3 linked regions of the Homo sapiens genome follow. The protein of the gene in region 3 purifies or fractionates together with the protein of the main gene of each other region. This does not show direct contact. Each region holds a gene or a part of one and is shown on either strand. Other genes may lie near its edges.

Region 1 (3,563 bases), on a different chromosome or scaffold from region 3:
AGCCTCCTAAAGTGTTGGGATTACAGGTGTAAGCCCCCAAGCCTGGCCCAAACGTTTATCAAAACATCTACTGTGTTTCAGACAATGCGCAAGACACTGGGCTTATGAAAGTGAGACAGCCCCCACACTTGAAGCCCTTATAATCCAGTGGAGTATGATTTATTTGGAAGTTAGAAATTTTAAGACAGTCATCAGTATTACACACAGAAACAAACATGTGATTCAAGAATGCTGTCTACAATACTCCAATTTTCATTTATGAATTTTCAATAGGCTACAATTATTCCACCATATTCTTGAAGAACATTTTCATCCTAACTTTTTTGTGCTTGTGGGTGGTGTTAATTGTGGCATATGCAAAAACTTTATCACTTTTCGATTATGAACAGATGTAAATGACTTACTTGATGTTTTATTTTAGAATAACAAGCATCTTCTAAAATAAGTCTCCACCCAAAAAGCTGGGGCTATCATTACGGAAGAGACTTAACACTCTGAAACTGAACCTTGACATGCTCTTCAACACCTCAAAAGTTACTCCACATCTCTGTACTCCAATTTCTTCATCTGTCACAAAGATATAATATTCTTGGAAGACTCTTTGGGGTGCTTACAAGAAAAACATCATTAGTGAAAAGTTCTGTTAAAAATGCAGATTGCTTTCACCTTTTGCCAGGGACTACCTATTACTGTGGACATTAAAACAAAGTGACCCATCTAAATGAGTGCAACATTTTGGCAAGTTTATGGTGGTTGAAACATGATTTGGTTTTCCAACTTCTCCCCACTTGGCTTCATTTCAATCTGCGGAGTATATCAAGTGAGAATGCTTCTGCGCCTTCATACTGCCCCACAGAGGGAGTGGCCACACTAAGCAAGCCTATATTCAATTACTTTCCCCACTTTATACCTTTCTTACACTTTTCCCATATGACACTTTCATAACCATATTTAGCTTTCTTCCTACCATCTCCCTGTAATTCAAAACGCAATTTAGATTCCCATATGGTTGCCATCGAAGCTAACAGATGTCTAGCAAATTAAAACAAAAATTATGACTTATAAACTGCTGATGTATCATCATTCCAGAACATCTTGCAATTTATAGTGAATCATAAGATAAAGCTTCCTACTTGATGCCCCCCCTCCCCCACCGCCCCAAGGTTTCCTGAGTCTCCCTCCTCTCTGAATTAAGCCCTGTGGAAGCAAATTAGAGGCAAGATCCTGCCATCAACCCTGGATAAACTTGCACTTAAAGACACAAGGTAATATCTGAAAGCATATCAAAAGAGAAAGTTGGCCTCAAGTAACTGAGGCTTTTCTAATCCTTTGTAGCAAAGAAAACAGAAAAATGACTTGGTTCTCCCAAATCATTCCACCGTTTCCATTGAGTTCTTTCCTAACAAGTCACTATAAAATCTATTGAATCCATTTGCCTCATCTTCTTGGCAGATCTTAAGGGTATTATCATTACCTAGTAGTAATGATGCCAAAGTACTAGACTAAGGCATTCTAGAAGTTCTATAGCCCTGTATGGAACCAGTATAAAATCTGGAGACAACAACAGTAATGATATTCACTATTTGTTAAATATTGAGATATTATGCCGAATAAAACATTATCTCACTGAATCTTTAAAACTACAACACCATTAATGTTATCTTTCCTTTATAAACAAGAAATTAAGGCTCAGTGCCTTAATACAGTAGACTATATTTTTCAAAGATGGCCACAACCTACATGACTTTCTGCAATGTGACCTTGACACTTCTCCATCAAAAGGTGGCTTCTAATTCTTCACCCTTTGAAATTCAGCAGTCTGCATGAGTGCTCTAACCAATGGAATAGATAAAAGTGGCACTGCCAGTTCTAAGTGGAACCTTAACTGGCTGGAAGCTTCTTTAAGACTTAGAGACAGGAAGAAGCCACGTGTAGGTAGGTGCTCCAGTGACAACTCTGGCTAAGCTCCCAGCAAGCATCAGCTTCCAGTCATATGAGTATACCATCTCAGGCATCCTGCCCAGAGGGCCTTCCGGTAAGTCCAACTCCAACTACATCTCACCACAACTGTATGAGACCCCAAGTGAGAACTGTCCAGATGAGCCTGGCCAAATCACAGAACTGTGAACTATAATAATAAACAACTGTGTTTTAAACAACTAAGCTTGGAGGTTATGTAGCAATAAATAACCAGAATATTGAGATCAATTTACTTGCCTGGGAACAGTTAAGTATCCAGAATCCAAAACAGTTAAAAGCCAGAATCCAAAAGGGCAAAACATCTATTAATGATGAGTGATGGGATGTGGTGTTCGGTACCCCAAAGAAATGACTTTAAAACAAAATCCTCTTTCTTCTCCCTCCCCCAAACCCAAAGCAGTCTCAGGGTTTTCTGAGAAATGTCCCAGTACGGTGACACCCTCAATAAAATCAATTCCCTTCTGTCTTGAATTGTTCCAATATATAACAGAGGAAACAAGTTTTCCCCCACCAGCCTGTGATAACTAATGAGAAAGGAATCTGTACAAGATGTTGACTTTGTTACTCAGAATGTCATTACAACTGTTATATAAAAGGATTCAGATTTTATACATGAAGCTGTAATTCTAATAATAAAAATATATTTAATGACTCACAGGACTACATTTGAGATTCACAGTGGGGAGAGAGAAGCACGGACACTATACCAGGAACTGAACAAGCCAAGAAGAAATTAGTGAAAGGTTTTTTGTTTTGCTTTGTTTTGTTTTTTTTGAGACGGAGTCTTGCTCTGTTGCCAGGCTGGAGTACAGTGGTGTGATCTTGCCTCACTGCAATCTCCACCTCCCGGGTTCAAGTGATTCCCCTGCCTCAGCCTCCCGAGTAGCTGGGACTACAGGCACCCGCCAACACACCTGGCTAGTTTTTTGTATTTCAGTAGGGACAGAGTTTCACCATGTTGGCCAGGATGGTCTTGATTTCCTGAACTTGTGATCCGTCCACCTCAGCCTCCCAAAGTGCTGGGATCGCAGGCGTGAGCCACCGCGCCCAGCCTTGGTTTTTTTTTGTTTTTGTTTTTTGTTTTTTGTTTGTTTGTTTTTTATGAAAGGATCTTTGAGGAAGAAATGAAAGTAATAAAACTAGTCTTCAGACAAGTCTCCCTAACAGAAAATGTCTATAATTTATCACGTGTCCTGGTATATACTACTTCTGTTATAAATTAGTGGCCAAACTCTTCTATTTTTCTTCTCCAGCATATTGGAACTCAAGAAACTCATTCTGTGTAAGAACTAGAAAGAACGTTATAACTCATCCACCTCCTTCAATTTAACAGCTGAGAAACTGAGGCCCAGGCAGTTAACTGATGAAGAGCCAAACTGCTGATCAGGAAAAGAACCAAGCTCTCAGTGCTGGTGCCACCATATGTTCAATTTTATTTTACCAGAACTATACCTTTGAATGTCACCAGTGTATGTCAAATGTAGTCTAGCAGTTCAGTGTGAAAATGAAAATTAGGAAACCATGCTGTTGGCAATCTCTTCTTCATAATTGTATGGGAGTAGCACCGAGTCTGCTGTTTTTGG
Region 2 (3,563 bases), on a different chromosome or scaffold from region 3:
GCCCTGACATGCCTCGGGGCTTTTGCTCGCACTAGCCCTCATTTCCTGCTTTGTCATTGTTGTTTATCAATCATTGAGTACTTTCAGTGTTTTTACATCTGGAATCCCACTTAATTTTTAAAATGGAGGTGTCTAAACTGTGCCTTAGAAGGCTCAAGTAACATCCCAAGATCACACAGTGTGTATCAAAGCAAGACTACAAAACTCAGGTCACTGGACTCCAAAGCTGATGGTCTTAAAATTGTTCATCATTGCCTCTCTTTACAGCCCAGTTCAAGGGGCACCTTCTCTGTGAAGCTTCTCCTGACCCCTTCAAGCAAAATTTACCACTTCTTCCTTTGAGTTTGCCAGGGCCTTTGTACATCCCCATTACAGCATGACATTATACTTTAATGACTTGAATGTAGCACTCTTTGAGCTCCTCTGTGGTAGGAGCCCTTTTTTTAAATCTCTGTATCCCTGGTAACTAGCTGAGTGCCTAGGCAGGCTCTTAGTGACACATTTTGGATGCACATTAAAATCTGGCTGCTGGACTCATTAAGATTGTGGGTCTGTTTCTTAGTGCTTGGCCTTAACACACTAAAAATAAGGCCAGATTTATACATGATCTTTAAAAAAATAAAAACACCACATGCAATACATATTTTTGTAATTTCAAAGCCTTCCTAACATCAGTTATTGAGGACTCTTAAGCAGAAACCTAGTCACAGGGCATTTAGCCTGTAAGGACCCCTGATCTCTAGTTCATAAACACCCTCCAGTATAACGGGGGTAAAACAGATCAAATTACCTACACCCTACTTGTGAAGTGTCACACCACAGATGACAACTGTTTAAACTGTAGCTCTTGTCCTATAAATGAAACTGTGGTTGGGCTCTCTGCTGTGGCCTGAGTTCTGTCTGGGTTGATGGTGGCACACAGTGACGTTTCCATTTTGCAGAAACTCAGGAAAACTATTGAGTTGCCTGACACTTATTTCACAGTATGTTATAGTTTTATGCAAATATGACTCATTATATTCAAAAGAAAAGTTATGGAATCTGTGCTATCATATGTGACACGTGAGAGGCTGATCGCCCAGATAGGTGTAAGTAAAGATGTATTATATATATAAGGTGAGGATTTGGGGTTGAAATAATGCTCTAGAAATATCACTGGACATGAGTCTCAAGAGAGCTGCAACATTGTCTCAGAAGGAAAGAGCTAGTTTCATTGTAGCCTTCCCTGGAAAATACTAGAAGCTTGTTATTGACTTCGATGTCAATTTGCAAAAGACAGATGGAGAAAGAAGGCATGGGCCTTCTCATTTCATAGATTAGAGCGAATCCCTTTGTTATGTTATCCCATCTTGGACACAAACAGGCACCCAATCTTATAAGTTGACATTTAACCTTAGTACTTTGACAGACTAACATACCTCCCCAGAGAAGGCCTGTCCATTGAGGAGGTGCTCCGACCCTTGGCTGTCCTCACTCCCAAAGTGTAGTCGGATCTCCTCCAGCCGGTGGCTGTATGTCATGGGCCCTCCAGATATGTTGACCAAGTGCTCCTTGTCCAGGCGAAGGGATACGTGTCTTCCAGTGTTGTACATGGTCCCACTGACCTGCAAGGCAATTAGCAACAGGTCAAGCAAGGCCCTCCTTCTTCTATGCCTCCCCAAACCCAGCATGGTGCTTGGATCAACACCTTTTGCTTCCTCTTGATGGGAAGATGGGCTAAATCCACATGTGGAGTAGGGCGTGGCAGCTGCCCCAGAGGGTATATGTGGGATCTATGGTAATTTCTGTGAGGCATAAACCACATGATGGCTTAGGAATTTGAGGTAAGAACTTGAAGGAGACTTTTCATCATTTGTGATTAATATTTTGTGCATTGTATTTTATAAAAAATGAATTTGTCCTTCTTACTATAAGGATTTGGAATGGAAAGATACTGCAAGAGTTCTAAATCTCAGCTGTGAGAAATTGGAGAAAGCAGTTAGCAAGGGGTGAGATATTAAGAAGGCCAAATGAGACAGGGAAGAGAAAATGAGTGACTAGAAGCAGACGCTCATGGGAGATGGAAAGCCTAGGTCTGAATTCTCAAGCGTCCTATCTGGTGTGTCCTGCCCTGCAACCAGACATTGCACAGAATCCTCATAGCTTGTGGGCCTCAAGTGGTAAACTAAAGGGATTCACTCAAACTTCCAATTTCATAGATTCCTAGACTTACTCCTTATTCCTGATTCCATCTTGCTCCAGCCCCTTCAAACTGCTAACATGACTGCTTGGCATTCCTTTTCCTTCTTTTCTTGCTGGGACTTGATGTTCAGCTTCATTTTCCTGACTGTGACCTCAACAACAATTGATTCTAGAACACTCATTCCCATCTGAAACTCTACTTTCTTACTCTCTTGGGTTGACTTAGCTCTGGGAGTAGGATCTAGAGCTTAGGGAGACTTTGAATGAGTCTGGAAGGAGTGTTTCTGGGTTACAGGAGGCTGAACTATTTGGATTTTCTTCCTGCTTACTCTGACTTTGGGCCAAGCCTTCAGCCCTAGTGATTCCTGAAGGGCTTCCTGTACCTTCTGACACCTTCATTAGATGTGGTTTTCATATATGTGCTCTATAGCACTATCTTTTACCTGCCTCTTTTCCACCTTTCTGACACTGGTGTTGTGAATGATTAGCTCTTGAGTTGTTCACTGTGGCAGAGACCATAATGCTCACCAAATATTCCAGTGACTCATTTTGTTTCCTGCCACCTTACTGTAGAATGGAGCCCATGTGACTGATAGGGGCCATGGGTTGGGAGGGGTCATGACAAGTGTCACTTCCAGGTTGAAATAGTGGATTCCCCAGACTCACCTTTCCCTGGTACATCGACCAATGGCATTATATGGAAATGGCAATGTGGTGCAGCGACTGCATGGAGCTCATGTCAGCCTAGGCCCCTAGAGATTATGTGCAGTTTACAAAAATGACAGGAATTCTTCCCCTCCCTATAACTACACTCCCAACAATGTAATTTTGTAACTGCTGTCATCTAGATAAGAGGCTATTTCTCTACGTCGAGTCTGGGCTGGCCTTGTCACTTACTTTGGCCAACAGCATGTGCTGCACACAACATGCTAGTCCTGAGAGTAGACCTTGAGGGCATGCGTGTTTTCTTCACTTCTTCGTGGAGCCGTGAAACTACCATGCAAATGAGCCTGGGCTAGCCTGCTGGAGGATGGGGCCACAGTGAGGAGAGCCATCCCAGGAGAGGCCGTCTAGACGGGCTACTCTGTGGCTGATCCACTAGCTGACTGGCCCAGCTGAGATCAGCTTAGCCTGGCCCAGGTCAGAAATGTCCACTGACCCATAGGCTTGGAGCTAAATGATTATTTAAGTCTCTAAATTTTGGGGTGGTTTGTTATGCAGCAAAAGGGAACTGATAGACACTAAGTCAGTCATCTTCTTTCTCCTGTGAAATCTGGAACTATCAACAGAAACTCTCCGTTGAGTTCCTGAACTGCAAGGTCGCCTGAGTGCCAACCATACTGTTAAGCAGAGAAAGTCAGATCAGAGAGAGAGGACTGAGG
Region 3 (3,563 bases):
GTCAGTGCTCAGGTACCTCACGCGGCCCTGCTCCACATCCCGCTGGTGGAACGCCTGTGTGGCCCACCACTCAGCACCCTCCACCCCACCTGCCCCCTGCTTCTGCAGCTCCCCAAACTGCAGGGCCCCAGTGACGCGGAACAGCACGCTCACATCCTGCCCCACGGCATTGGTCTCCACCGACAGGTTGGCGGGCAAGATGGGCATGGCAGAGCCTTGGGCCAGTCGCAACCCTGTGCTGCGGTGGATCTGTATGGCCGGCCGGATGGCCACCACCTTCAGCGTGGCCGGGGGGCTGGCCTGCAGTCCATCGCTGACCCGGAACGTCAAGTCCTGTGCAGGACCACCGCGGTGGACATAGACTAGGCTGCCGGCCTCCAACTCCCGGCAGGAGAACTCGGTCGCCGGCTCCCCAGGCTGGTCTCGGCGCTCCACGGGGAGGCCAGAGGAGGTGCCAAGGACCTGGAAGGTGAGGCCCTCACAGGCAGAGTCCGGGTCATAGGCCTGGAAAACCTCAGGCCCCAGCGGCTTCTGCGTGTGTTCCAGGATCACCATGAGGCTGCCATGTGGGAAGATGATGTGGGGTGGGTCATTGACAGGGTTGACCTGGATGGGCAGGAGGTATGTTTGGCCCCTCCGAAGGCATGAGGGCATGGGCACCCGAGCCGTCACCGACACCTCCAGCACCAGCTGGTCGGAGGTGTCCTCAGAGCCATCGTGGATGAAGCGGGCCTTGCGGTTCACCACGTCCAGGAGGGTGAACATTTTTCGTGCCTGGGCTCCCGGGATGTCCAGCTCGAGCTCGCCATGGCGTGCCCCTCGGGTCACGCTGAACAGCACCTGGGATTTGCGCAGCTCAGCCTCCATCAGGTCCAGCGTGGGCTGCACATGCCTCCACTCAAGCCAGGCTGTGCCCCCCTCGGCCACCACCAGTGGGCTGATAGTCAGCAGCTGGGTGAAATTGGCAAAGACAGGAGGCAGCCCTGGCTCAGGCACGCATGGCTCAGGCAGCTCCATGGCTGGCCAAGCCTCAGGGGCCAGGGTGGAGAAAGCTTCATAATGTCCATAGGCATCGTCCTCATACTCCTCCTCCTCCAGCCTGCAGCCGGCTGCCATGTTGCGCGTCAGCAAAGCTTCCCGCAGCCCCCGCCTCTGGCCATTGACACTGAGGTCTTCCATGCAGCCCAGCAGGGAGGCATTGGTGGCCTCTGGTGTCAGGCCCAGGCGGTGTTCCTGGAGGTGACGAGAGGCCTCTGCATCCAGCCCCCCGAGAAGGAGACTGCCCCGTGGCTCCAGGTAGCTGAGGACTCCTCGGTTCGAAGTATGCGTAGGGTACTGGTCCACGGAGATTTCCAGCCGGTGAGCATTGATGTGGACACTGACCTCATGGGGCTGCCCATCGGCCACAGGCACACTGTTGTGGAGCAATACGGTACCCTGGCCCTTCTCCACCACGGCCCGCAGGTGGCCCTCAAATATGTCCACATAGATGAAGTCCCCACGCCGGCCCCCTGCCTGGAAGGCCAAGGGTGCCTGCCGGCTCTGTGTGGTGAGTGTAAACTCTAGGGTTCCTTCGTCCTGAGTGCCCCAGGCAGGGAAGGCAGCCAGAGAGTGGGGCCCAGAGAAGCCCAGGGCCACATCATCACTGGCAGAAAACTCTTCAGCACAGCCCTCATGCACATCGGGGGTCAGAGGCCGGAGGAGGCTGCGGCCATTGAGGGTGGCTGCATGGAGGCAACCCCTCAGGGGTCGGCTGGTTCCCCTCAGGTAGGGCAGGCCAAGGGTCCCAGTGCCCCCAACAAAGAGCCCATAGGGGACCTCTAGGGGGGCTCCTGGGACTGCTGAGGAGGCGTTCAGAAACCCATCGACTGACAACGTGGCCCAGCCCTCTACGACAGTCAGCACCACAGTGTGGGGGATGGAGTCACTCAGCAGCGTCTCTGCTGGAGTCTGCAGCCTCAGCTCCTCCTGGCCCAGAACAAGTCTGACCTGAAGAGAGATGGGGAGTGGGAGATAGTGGACAGCACTTTGGATCCATCATTTCCCTTATAAAAGCATAGAGCCGGGCGTGATTGCAGTGGTGGCTCATGCCTGTAATCCTAGCACTTTGGGAGGCCAAGGCAGGCGGATCACCTGAGGTTAGGAGTTTGAGACCAGCCTGGCCAACATGGAGAAACCCTGTCTCTACTAAAAACACAAAATTAGCTGGGCATGGTGGCGCATGCCTGTAATCCCAGCTACTTTGGAGGCTGTGGCAGGAGAATTGCTTGAACTCGGGAGGTGGAGGTTGCAGTGAGCTGAGATCATGCCATTGCACTCCAGCCTGGGCAGCAAGAGCGAAACTCTGTCTCAAAAAACAAACAAAAAAAAAGCATAGTGAGTTCCCCACACTTGGGGCCCCAGAGTGGAAAACCTAGGACAAGAGCCTCTGGTGCCACTCCTCTTGCCGTCCTGCCATCTCTTTATTCATCCTCCAAACACTCACCAAAGGAAACTCTGGGCCAGGGCTGGATGGGCTCTGGGGACCCTGATATGAATCAGATGTGGTCCTCGCCCACAAGGAACTGACATACAGCAAGATGCTCTCCTAGAAATCCAACCTGTGTTTTTAAATTCTTCCCCTCTTTCCTTGAGTGAGAGGTGCCAGAAATATTGTCTTGGAATCTGGATTTCAACTTTGGAATAATGGGTAACTGGGAATCCCTTGATCAGTCCCCTTCAACAGAGCAAAGTTTCTTGGGGTCATTGAAGGCAGCCAGGCTCACTGTTCAGGAATAGGCTAATTTTTAAATTAAAATTTAAATACTCTGTGTTCTGAAAAAAAGCTCCCTGACCTGGGGTGGAAGGAGATCTTGGGGAGAGATGAAGGACATAGTTCTGTCTCCATGACATTGACAGCAGAAATGGCTCTGGTACGGTGCTCCCAGATGGTAGAATGGGAGGTGGCAGAGTATGGTAACTGCAGAACCAGGGCACTAAGAACTATAATTTTGGAGTCCTGGTATGGAGCATCTCTGTAGGGGTGTGGCATCATTGTACCTACAGAACTGGACAGCCATCAGCACCAGCCTGCACCACGCTGGTGTTTAACAGTGAAAGCAGCAGACTGACCAAGCCCTAGTCCTCTCCCCATGGGGTGTGGAAGGAGATGGCTGCCCCAAATTTGTTTTTTTTTGAGACGGAGTTTGGTTCTTGTTGCCCAGGCTGAAGTGCAATGGTGCGGTCTCGGCTCACTGCAACCTCCTTCTCCTGGGTTCAAGTGATTCTCTTGCCTCAGCCTCCTGAGTAGCTGGGATTACAGGCATGTGTCACCATGCCCGGCTAATTTTTTTGTATTTTTATTAGAGACACGGTTTCACCATGTTGGCCAGGCTGGTCTCGAACTCCTGACCTCAGGTGATCCACCCGCCTCAGCCTCCCAAAGTGCTGGGATTACAGGCATGAGCCACCGCGTCCGGTTATTTTTTTCTTTTAAAAATAGAGATGGGGACTCATTGTGTGGCTTAGGCCAGACTTGAACTCCTAGGCTCGAGTGATCTTCTCACCTTGGCCTCCCAAAGTGG

The links. The genes of interacting proteins can lie anywhere in the genome.
Region 1: the proteins of CSPG4 (region 3) and TSPAN5 purify together in Homo sapiens (co-immunoprecipitation; one large-scale study listed by IntAct). This does not show direct contact.
Region 2: the proteins of CSPG4 (region 3) and CA10 purify together in Homo sapiens (co-immunoprecipitation; one large-scale study listed by IntAct). This does not show direct contact.

Annotation. Positions count from the first base shown.
Region 1 is NC_000004.12:98,652,112-98,655,674, forward strand, and holds part of TSPAN5 (tetraspanin-5), read right to left. Parts: intron 1-3,563. UniProt on the Homo sapiens protein: Part of TspanC8 subgroup, composed of 6 members that interact with the transmembrane metalloprotease ADAM10.
Region 2 is NC_000017.11:51,746,215-51,749,777, forward strand, and holds part of CA10 (carbonic anhydrase-related protein 10 precursor), read right to left. Parts: intron 1,605-3,563; coding exon 1,419-1,604; intron 1-1,418. UniProt on the Homo sapiens protein: Does not have a catalytic activity.
Region 3 is NC_000015.10:75,688,824-75,692,386, forward strand, and holds part of CSPG4 (chondroitin sulfate proteoglycan 4 precursor), read right to left. Parts: intron 1,990-3,563; coding exon 1-1,989. UniProt on the Homo sapiens protein: Proteoglycan playing a role in cell proliferation and migration which stimulates endothelial cells motility during microvascular morphogenesis. May also inhibit neurite outgrowth and growth cone collapse during axon regeneration.